Linked DNA regions of Homo sapiens: region 2 is linked to region 1. Evidence: fine-mapped QTL for protein levels in blood plasma. A gene starts in region 1. The other region holds a variant in brackets. All regions are shown on one strand. Distances are between the middles of the regions. Region 1 holds the start of IL5RA (interleukin 5 receptor subunit alpha). Region 2 overlaps IL5RA (interleukin 5 receptor subunit alpha).

Region 1 (4,533 bases):
CTGTTGACCAGGCTGGAGTGCAGTGGCACGATCTCAGCTCACTGCAACCTTCGCCTCCCGAGTTCAAGCCATTCTCCTGTCTCAGCCTTTGAGTAGCTGGGATTACAGGCACCTGCCACCACACCTGGCTAATTTTTGTGTTTTTTAGTAGAGACAGGGTTTCACCATGCTGGTCAGGCTGGTCTTAAACTCCTGACCTCAGGTGATCTGCCTACCTTGGCTTCCCAAAGTGCTGGGATTAGAGACGTGAGCCACTGCATCCGGTCTTTTTTCACTTTCTTCATGGTATCCTTTGAAGCACAAAAGCTTTTAATTTTGGTGAAATCCAGTTTATCTATTTTTTTCTTTTGTTGTGTCTGCTTTTGTATCTTATTGAAGAAACCATTGGGTAGGTGCGGCGGCTCATGCCTGTAATCCCAGCTCTTTGGGAGGCCAAGGTGGGTGGATCACCTGAGATCAGGAGTTCGAGACCAGCCTGGCCAACATGGCAAAACCCCATCTCTAGTAAAAATATAAAACTTAGCCGGGTGTGGTGGCACACGCCTGTAATCCCAACTTCTCGGGAGGCTGAGGCAGGAGAATCGCATGAATCCAGGAGGCAGGGGAGTTGGCAGTGAGCTGAGATCATACCACTGCACTCCAGCCTAGGCGACAGAGTAAGATTCTGTCTCAAAAAAAAAAAAAAAAAAAAAGAAAGAAACAAAATGAAGGTCATGAAGATTTATGCCTATGTTTTCTTCTAAGAATTTTATAGTTTTGCCTCTTACTTTTAGGTCTTTGATCCCATTGGAATTCATTTTTGTCTATGCTGCGAGGCATTCTTTTGCATGTGGATATGCACCACTTATTGAAAGGCTGATCTTTTCCCCGCTGAATTGTCTTGACACTCTTGTCAAAAATCAATTGACCCTAAATGCGAGAGTTTATTTTTGACTCTCAATTCTATTAAATTGATCTGTATGTCTCTAATATTTTTTAAAATAACTTTTTCTGCCTGCATTTGTACAGAATAAAACGTTTGTAAATATAGAAACACAGAATAAAAGTAAGAGAAACACTAACCCTGCCGTGGTAGAATGAACTGTTGGTCCCATTTCTTCACTCCCCACTAGGAGTTGTCCATGTCCACATCCTTATCATGGCCTTATCATGGTGGAATGTACTTTGGGCTTCGTCCATTTGACTCCGGGCTTGGCCATGCAATTTGCTCAGCCTCTTGAGATGTCAGGGAATGTGACATGAGCAGATGCTTGATGCGTGCTTGTGCAGTTGGTCCTGCTCTCTTGCACTTTTGCTGTCACCATAAAAAGATTATGCCCTGGGTAGCCACTGGTTCCAAATGAATGGCAGATACTTGGAACAAATCTGAACTCACTTTGTGATCTGGATCCCAGCCCAAGATTAAGCAGACCCCAGTCAAAACTCAGACACATGGGCTACAAATACATGCCTATCACAGTTTACCACTGAGGGTTCTGTGGTTGCTTGTTCTGTAGCAATAGCTGACTAATACACCTACCACTTAGAGATAACTATTCCTGTTAGTCTGATCTTCTGACCAAAAATAAGACTGTAAAAAAAAATTACATGTGTGTATACCCTCCTGTTGTTTTTACTTAACATTTTTTCATAATACCCTATGTTATTAAAAGTTCTTGATTGGCTCATACCTGTAATCCCAGCACTTTGGGAGGCCAAGGTGGGAGGATCACAAGCCAGGAGTTTGAGACCACCCTGGCCAACATGGTGAAACCCTCTCCCTACTAAAAATACAAAAATTATCTGGCATGGTGGCACATGCCTGCAATCCCAGCTACTCCGGGGGCTAAGGCACGAGAATCACTTGAACCCAGGAGGCAGAGACTGCAGTGAGCCGAGATCCTGCCACTGCACTCCAGCCTGGGTGACAGGGCACCACCCTGTCTCAAAAGAAAAAAAAAAGTTATTGATAAACATTCCTTTTGACATCCACATCACATATTTCAACCTTGAGCAGTTACATATTTCTCTTCACCATTCCTATAGTACTTTTACTATTTTACTATTGTAAAGGTACAATGAATTTTGCTCTCTTTTGTATAAATCTTGATCTACATTTTTCCATTATTTCCATGGAATCAAGTTCTAGAAGTTGATACCTTTAATAAGCTCCTTTAACCAAAGTTCATGGTAGAGCCACTGAACCATGATTTTCGTTTTATTACTATTCATATTTCTATTTGGCTAAACTCACATTGTTTTGCTTAAAGGATGCAGACACATTTAATTTCACTTTTTAAAAAAACGACTTTTGTGAATTCTTCCAGCATGTTCTATCATACTGTCTTTGGACGTTTACACTTTATTATAAAGAATTAAATTATTGCCATAAAAAACCAAACAGGCCTCGCTCAGTGGCTCACGTCTGTAATCCCAGCACTTTGGGAGGCCGAGGTGGGTGGATCACCTGTCAGGAGTTCAAGACCAGACTGACCAGCGTGGTGAAACCCCATCTCTACTAAAAATACAAAAAAATTAGCTGGGTGTGGTGGCGGGGGCCTGTAATCCCAGCTACTCAGGAGGCTGAGGCAGGAGAATCGGTTGAACCCGGGAGGTGGAGGTTGTGGTGAGCTGAGATCGCGCCATTGCACTCCAGCCTAGGCAACAAGACTGAAATTCCATCTCAAAACAAACAAACAACCCCCCCGCAACCCCCCGCCAGAAAAAAAAAAAGTCCCTGCCTCTCATTTTTTCGTTTGTGCTTATACAGAAACATAGAGACAGTGTTTCTGTATGAGCATGTGTTTGCTTTGTTTGTTTGTTTGTTTTTATTGGCGTAGTTAATTAAAGATCATATACCCAGGAAGGTGGTATGGAAGGAGCAGCCAGATCTAATTTTCTTTATACCCTTCACCGCGCCTAGCATAGTGCATAGGTGCATTCAATGAATATTTGAGTAAATGAATGTAAGAAATATACAGACCATTGGCTGAGTGTGGTGGCTCACACCTGTAATCCCAGAACTTTAAGAGGCCAAGGCGGGTGCATCACTTGAGGTCAGGAATTTGAGACAAGCCTGGCCAACATGGTGAAACCCCATCTCTACCAAAAATACAAAAAATTAGCCAGGCGTGGTGGCGGGTGCCTGTAATCCCAACTACTCGGGAGGCTGAGGCAAGAGAATCGCTTGAACCTGGGAGGCAGAGGTTGCAGTGAGCAGAGATTGCGCCACTGCACTCCAGCCTGGGCGACAGAGTGAGACTTCATCTCAAAAAATATACATATATATATACGGAGAGAGGCCATTAAAGCAGGCTTTTAAGCCAGAAATTACTGTCTTCCCAATGATTAATAAGTATTTTTAAGGTTTCATTAGTGACAAATATGTTACATGTATAAACAGATGGGCAGGACTTAAAAGAGTAGGCCAGATAGTTGATACTATATCTAAACTTTTCTGGGTGCCTCTTAGCAAATAAATGGATCTCTCTCTGTTCCTTGTTTTACTTCCCCTTTCCCCGAGGAAAATCACATTTTTCAGGTCTGACAACAATTTTCAACCTGATAACAATTGCTCCGGTTTCATTTTGGCAACTGCTAAAATGGTCACCTTGGGAACCCCAGGCACACACGCTGACTGTACTTGCACAGCTTCTACACTGAGCCTTTTGGAAATTGCCTCCAGGAAGCCTGTCTCTCATCTCACAAACAGAACCACTGATCCAACCTGGGCCACCATCTTTCTGCATCTGCTCTGTCTGAGACTCTCCCAGTCAGCTCCTAAGGAGACAGGGAATCCTGCATCACTCATCGCTTAGGCTAGACTGAAGGTCTCCTTCCAAAGGCAACTACTTACTACTCTCTGCCGTGGGTCATACAATAAGCACTACTCTTATCTATTCACACGCTAAGCTACTTTTTTAAAGCCAGCTTTGCTAGCTAGCCACCTCGAAATTCCCCAGAAGGAATCAAACAGAAATGGAACAAAGGACAGGAAAAGCCAAGGAGGTTTGCTGAAATTGAAGCATTCTGAAGACAGCTGGGTGGTAAAATGGATGTGACGTGAGGAAGGTGGTCTTGGGTGCACCCACAGACCAACACTGCCATTGTTACAATTTGTGTAGGATGATCTCAGGTGACAGACAGCAGCAATTTATCACACCCAGAAACGCATCCCCCACACATATTTACTTGAGGGTACCAGACCTGCTCACAAAGCAGAGAAGAGCTAAGGCGGTTCTCTAAGGGCAGAGAATTGCTGCTATTGCCTAGTGAGTGGGGAGAGGGTACTCCTCAGGCCTTACTTCCTATCAAATCATGTGTCAGTGTTGCCTAGGAGACAGAGGCACAGTAACTACTGTAGCCAAACAAGGCACATAAACAAAACAGAAATGCAACGCTTTAGAGTACCCACGGAAAACTTGTTTACCTTGTCACCATGAGTAAAAGTTAATTCCCACTCCTGAAGAGAGCAAACCAACTCTGAAAGAGAGTGAAAATGCAGACAAGACAGTTATCAGATAATGGCTATCTGGACGAGAGATTCTTTCGTTT
Region 2 (4,000 bases), 16 kb after region 1:
ACCCCCAGGCCCCAAACAAAATAGCTGGGAAGCTCTCGAATATCAGAAATGGGGACTTTATAATTCTAATTCCATATCTCCAGTAAGTTGGCCTTTTGTAGTTAGTAGGTTTCTAGAAATATGTGATCATGGCCGGGCATGGTGGCTCATGCCTGTAATTCCAGCACTTTAGGAGGCTGTGGGTGGATCACTTGAGGTCAGGAGTTCAAGACCAGCCTGGCCATCATGGTGAAACGCCAGCTCTACTGAAAATACAAAAATTAGCCAGGTGTGGTGGTACACACCTGTCATCTCAGCTACTTGGGAGGCTGAGGCACGAGAATCGCTCCAAGCCAGGAGGCAGAGGTTGCAGTGAGCCAAGATCGCAACACTGCACTGCAGCCTGGGTGACAGAGTGAGGCTCTGTCTCAAGGGAAAAAAAAATGTGAAGATGATTATTTTTTGGTGATGAATACGACGTTCACATCACTATAGTTCCAAAAGAAGCATGAAATTCAGAGTTTGCCATGGCAATGTTTTGTCCTTTTTACTTTTGACTACCTAGGGTCTCCTGGAACCTCAATTGTGAATTTAACTTGCACCACAAACACTACAGAAGACAATTATTCACGTTTAAGGTCATACCAAGTTTCCCTTCACTGCACCTGGCTTGTTGGCACAGATGCCCCTGAGGACACGCAGTATTTTCTCTACTATAGGTTAGTACTGTACCTATTTTTACTTAGGCAAATGGTTGTTTCCTGCAACCTCATAACACTCGTAAATGTTCCAATTTAGGTATGGCTCTTGGACTGAAGAATGCCAAGAATACAGCAAAGACACACTGGGGAGAAATATCGCATGCTGGTTTCCCAGGACTTTTATCCTCAGCAAAGGGCGTGACTGGCTTGCGGTGCTTGTTAACGGCTCCAGCAAGCACTCTGCTATCAGGCCCTTTGATCAGCTGTTTGCCCTTCACGCCATTGGTAAGACCGACTTAACCCAAAGCTGAAATAACTGAATCTCGGAATCTCAGCACTGGAAGGAAGGGTTATAAAGATCACCTAGTTTTACTGCTTCTCTGATGCCAAGTAAGCATCAGACCCATGTTTGAAAACCACTGGGGCAAGGTTCTCCATTCCAACACCACCAGTGAGTTTTGCTGGACAACTCTGTGTTATGGAGGGCTGTGCTGGGCACTGTAGGATATTTAGCGGCATCTCTGGCCTCTACACACTAGATGCCAGTAGTATGCCCCTCTGTCCTTGAGCTGTGACTTTTAAAAAAGTCTCAGACTTTGCCAAATGCCCCTCAAGGGGTAAAATTTCCCCCAGTTGAGAATCACTGCACCAGAAAAAGTGAATTTAGCTGCTTAAAAGAGACCATTTAATCCTTCATGAGTTCTGACAGGTTTTGTGAAATTTCTGCCCCTGGGTCCTGTGATGGACTAGTGCCACCCCAGGTGATTTGAGTCCCTTCCCTATAGAATAGCCTCTCTTAGCTGTTCACAGGCAGCACGTTTCCCATCCAGAAGCCCTTCTTCTCCCAGGCTAACATCTCTCTCTCTCTGAATTTCTCACTGTTCTGGCCCATCTCCTGGATGTTCTGCAGCTCGAATATCTCTCAGTGTGCAATTCTCAGCTCTAAAAATTCTATTCGTGGTTTTGTCTGCTCAGTTCTCAATAGAGAAGACACTCT[C/T]CCTCATCCCAGATAGTTCTATTAGTGAAACTCATCAGGCGCTCTCACATGGCATTCTTAGTTATGGAGATTCCAGATTTCAATGGTGGGTGGTTATTATGGGCTGTGGGGCCAGACTGCCTGGATTTGGATCCTGGCTCCACCACTGGCTGAGTGACCTTGGACAAGCTGATCATTCCTTTGTGCCTAATCTTCTTATCTGAAACAATGGAGAGGAATCAATACTTCCTGTGCAGTCTTCGTGAGAATTGTGTTACTAATGATAAAGCACTTAGAACAGTGCCTGGCATAAAGGTTTAATAAATACACTACAATATTATTTAGAAGGTATGATTTGGCTGTGACATATCTATATCCAATGGAATATAACTTTGTGTAAAGAATCATAGCCCTTACTAAAGAGGTTATGCAATTCTCTCCAGTAATATATTTCTTAGGTGAACTAAAAATGTCACTTTCATGAAAATAGGCAATAAAAGATGCCGAGGAAGACCTAGGAAACAATGATATTAATATGAAAATGGATATGATCTAGTACAGACCACAGGAATTCATTTTTCTTTTATGATTTTCATTTTATTGAGGCTGATTCCTAGGATTACTAAAATAAATAAGTACTTTCTTGGTTAAGAATTTTCTTCATAGGGTATAGGAGGCTCTGAAGCCAGTGGATCCCACTCCTAGCTTTTCCCTATTAATTGTGAGATCTAAGTCATATTACCTAAGACAAGGACACTCATTAAGAATTCATTTCCCCTCACCTCACCGGACCATAAGACAATCAAGTGAGATCTCAAGGGAAAGGACATTAGAGTCCTAAGTAAAGACAAATTTAGCCCAATCCACTCTTCTTCTTCTTCTTCTTCTTTTTTTTTTTTTGAGACAGATTTCTTGCTCTGTCACCCAGGTTGGAGTGCAGTGGCGCGATCTCGGCTCACTGCAAGCTCCGCCTGCTGGGTTCACGCCATTCTCCTGCCTCAGCCTCCTGAGTAGCTGGGACTACAGGCGCCCACCACCACGCTCAGCTAATTTTTTGTATTTTTAGTAGAGAGGGGGTTTCACCACGTTAGCCAGGATGGTTTCGATCTCCTGACCTCGTGATCCACCCGCCTCGGCCTCCCAAAGTGCTGGGATTACAGGCGTGAGCCCCCACGCCCTGCCCCAATCCATTCTTTTTGATGCAAAAGAAAACTGAAGCTTCCTGCTCCAGCCCCCAAACAAACAAAAACCAAAAGACGCAGTAAACAAAATGAAATTAAAATTAAAAACTGAATCTCAGAAAGGGGAAGTGATTTGTTCAGGGCCACATACCTACTGGGAAGAGGCAAGGCTTGGTGGAAGGTCCAGGGAAATGTTCTCTCAGTGGTCAGGTTTATTCTGGGCCTGGTACAACTTGAGTAGTAAAGGGGGATGGTGGGTGAGTCTTGCAATGAGCTGAGGGGGGGAAGTAATTCAAGCATTCAACTCTATTTGGAGTAGTAATCCTTGTAGTTTCCAGAAAGGGTCTCTTCTTCTTCAGCACTATAAGACAAGAGTATTATGGGAGGCCACCGGCTTCCTGTGGCTTGGAGATCAGTTGATTAAGACCTGATGGTAAATATTTGAAAAAAGCGTATCTTAGAAATGCCTTGAGAAGTGTGGGTGGATTGGAATTATCAGCTTTGATCACTGATTCTAAAAAAAAAATCACTGATCTTTCGTTCCCTAACTTAGATCAAATAAATCCTCCACTGAATGTCACAGCAGAGATTGAAGGAACTCGTCTCTCTATCCAATGGGAGAAACCAGTGTCTGCTTTTCCAATCCATTGCTTTGATTATGAAGTAAAAATACACAATACAAGGAATGGATATTTGCAGGTAATTACTCAGATTATTCCAATATTTGATAACAGACATTTGTTTTAGAAACATTTAAAAAATTATCTTCAGTGACTGCAACCAAGTTACAGCTTGGTACTAACAAGGTCAAAGTTAACTTAATCTACCCAGGTATTATAGATATAACCAAATAGATATAAACCAAATCTTACTGGCCTTTTGTTTTGAAAGAACATACTTTTGGTTGAAACTAATACAAAGGATTAGATACAGACTCATTGGTACTAGTGCTGGTTAAAATCTAAAATGATAGACGGGTGGGGTGACTCACGCCTGTAATCCTAGCACTTTGGGAGGCCAATGTGGGTGGATCACCTGAGACCAGGAGTTCAAGACCAGCCTGGCCAACATGGTGAAACCCCATCTCTACTAAAAATACAAAAATCAGCCAACGTGATGGCGCGTGACTATAATCCCAGCTACTCGGGGGCAGGGGCTGAGGC

Evidence for each region. PIP is the chance, under the fine-mapping model, that this variant and not a neighbour inherited with it causes the effect. Sun 2018 read protein levels with aptamers (SomaScan).
Region 2: its variant is fine-mapped to the plasma level of the IL5RA protein (Sun 2018, PIP 0.95).

What each region holds. Positions count from the first base shown.
Region 1 is chr3:3,110,199-3,114,731 of GRCh38, reverse strand. It overlaps IL5RA (interleukin 5 receptor subunit alpha), which reads left to right and starts at 4,358. Exons shown (of 12, transcript NM_175726.4): 1 at 4,358-4,533.
Region 2 is chr3:3,094,835-3,098,834 of GRCh38, reverse strand. It overlaps IL5RA (interleukin 5 receptor subunit alpha), which reads left to right. Exons shown (of 12, transcript NM_175726.4): 6 at 545-698; 7 at 778-965; 8 at 3,391-3,536. Among named protein-coding and RNA genes, the nearest start is that of IL5RA, 14 kb to the left of the region's middle. The variant C/T (reference allele first, on the strand shown) is at 1,678.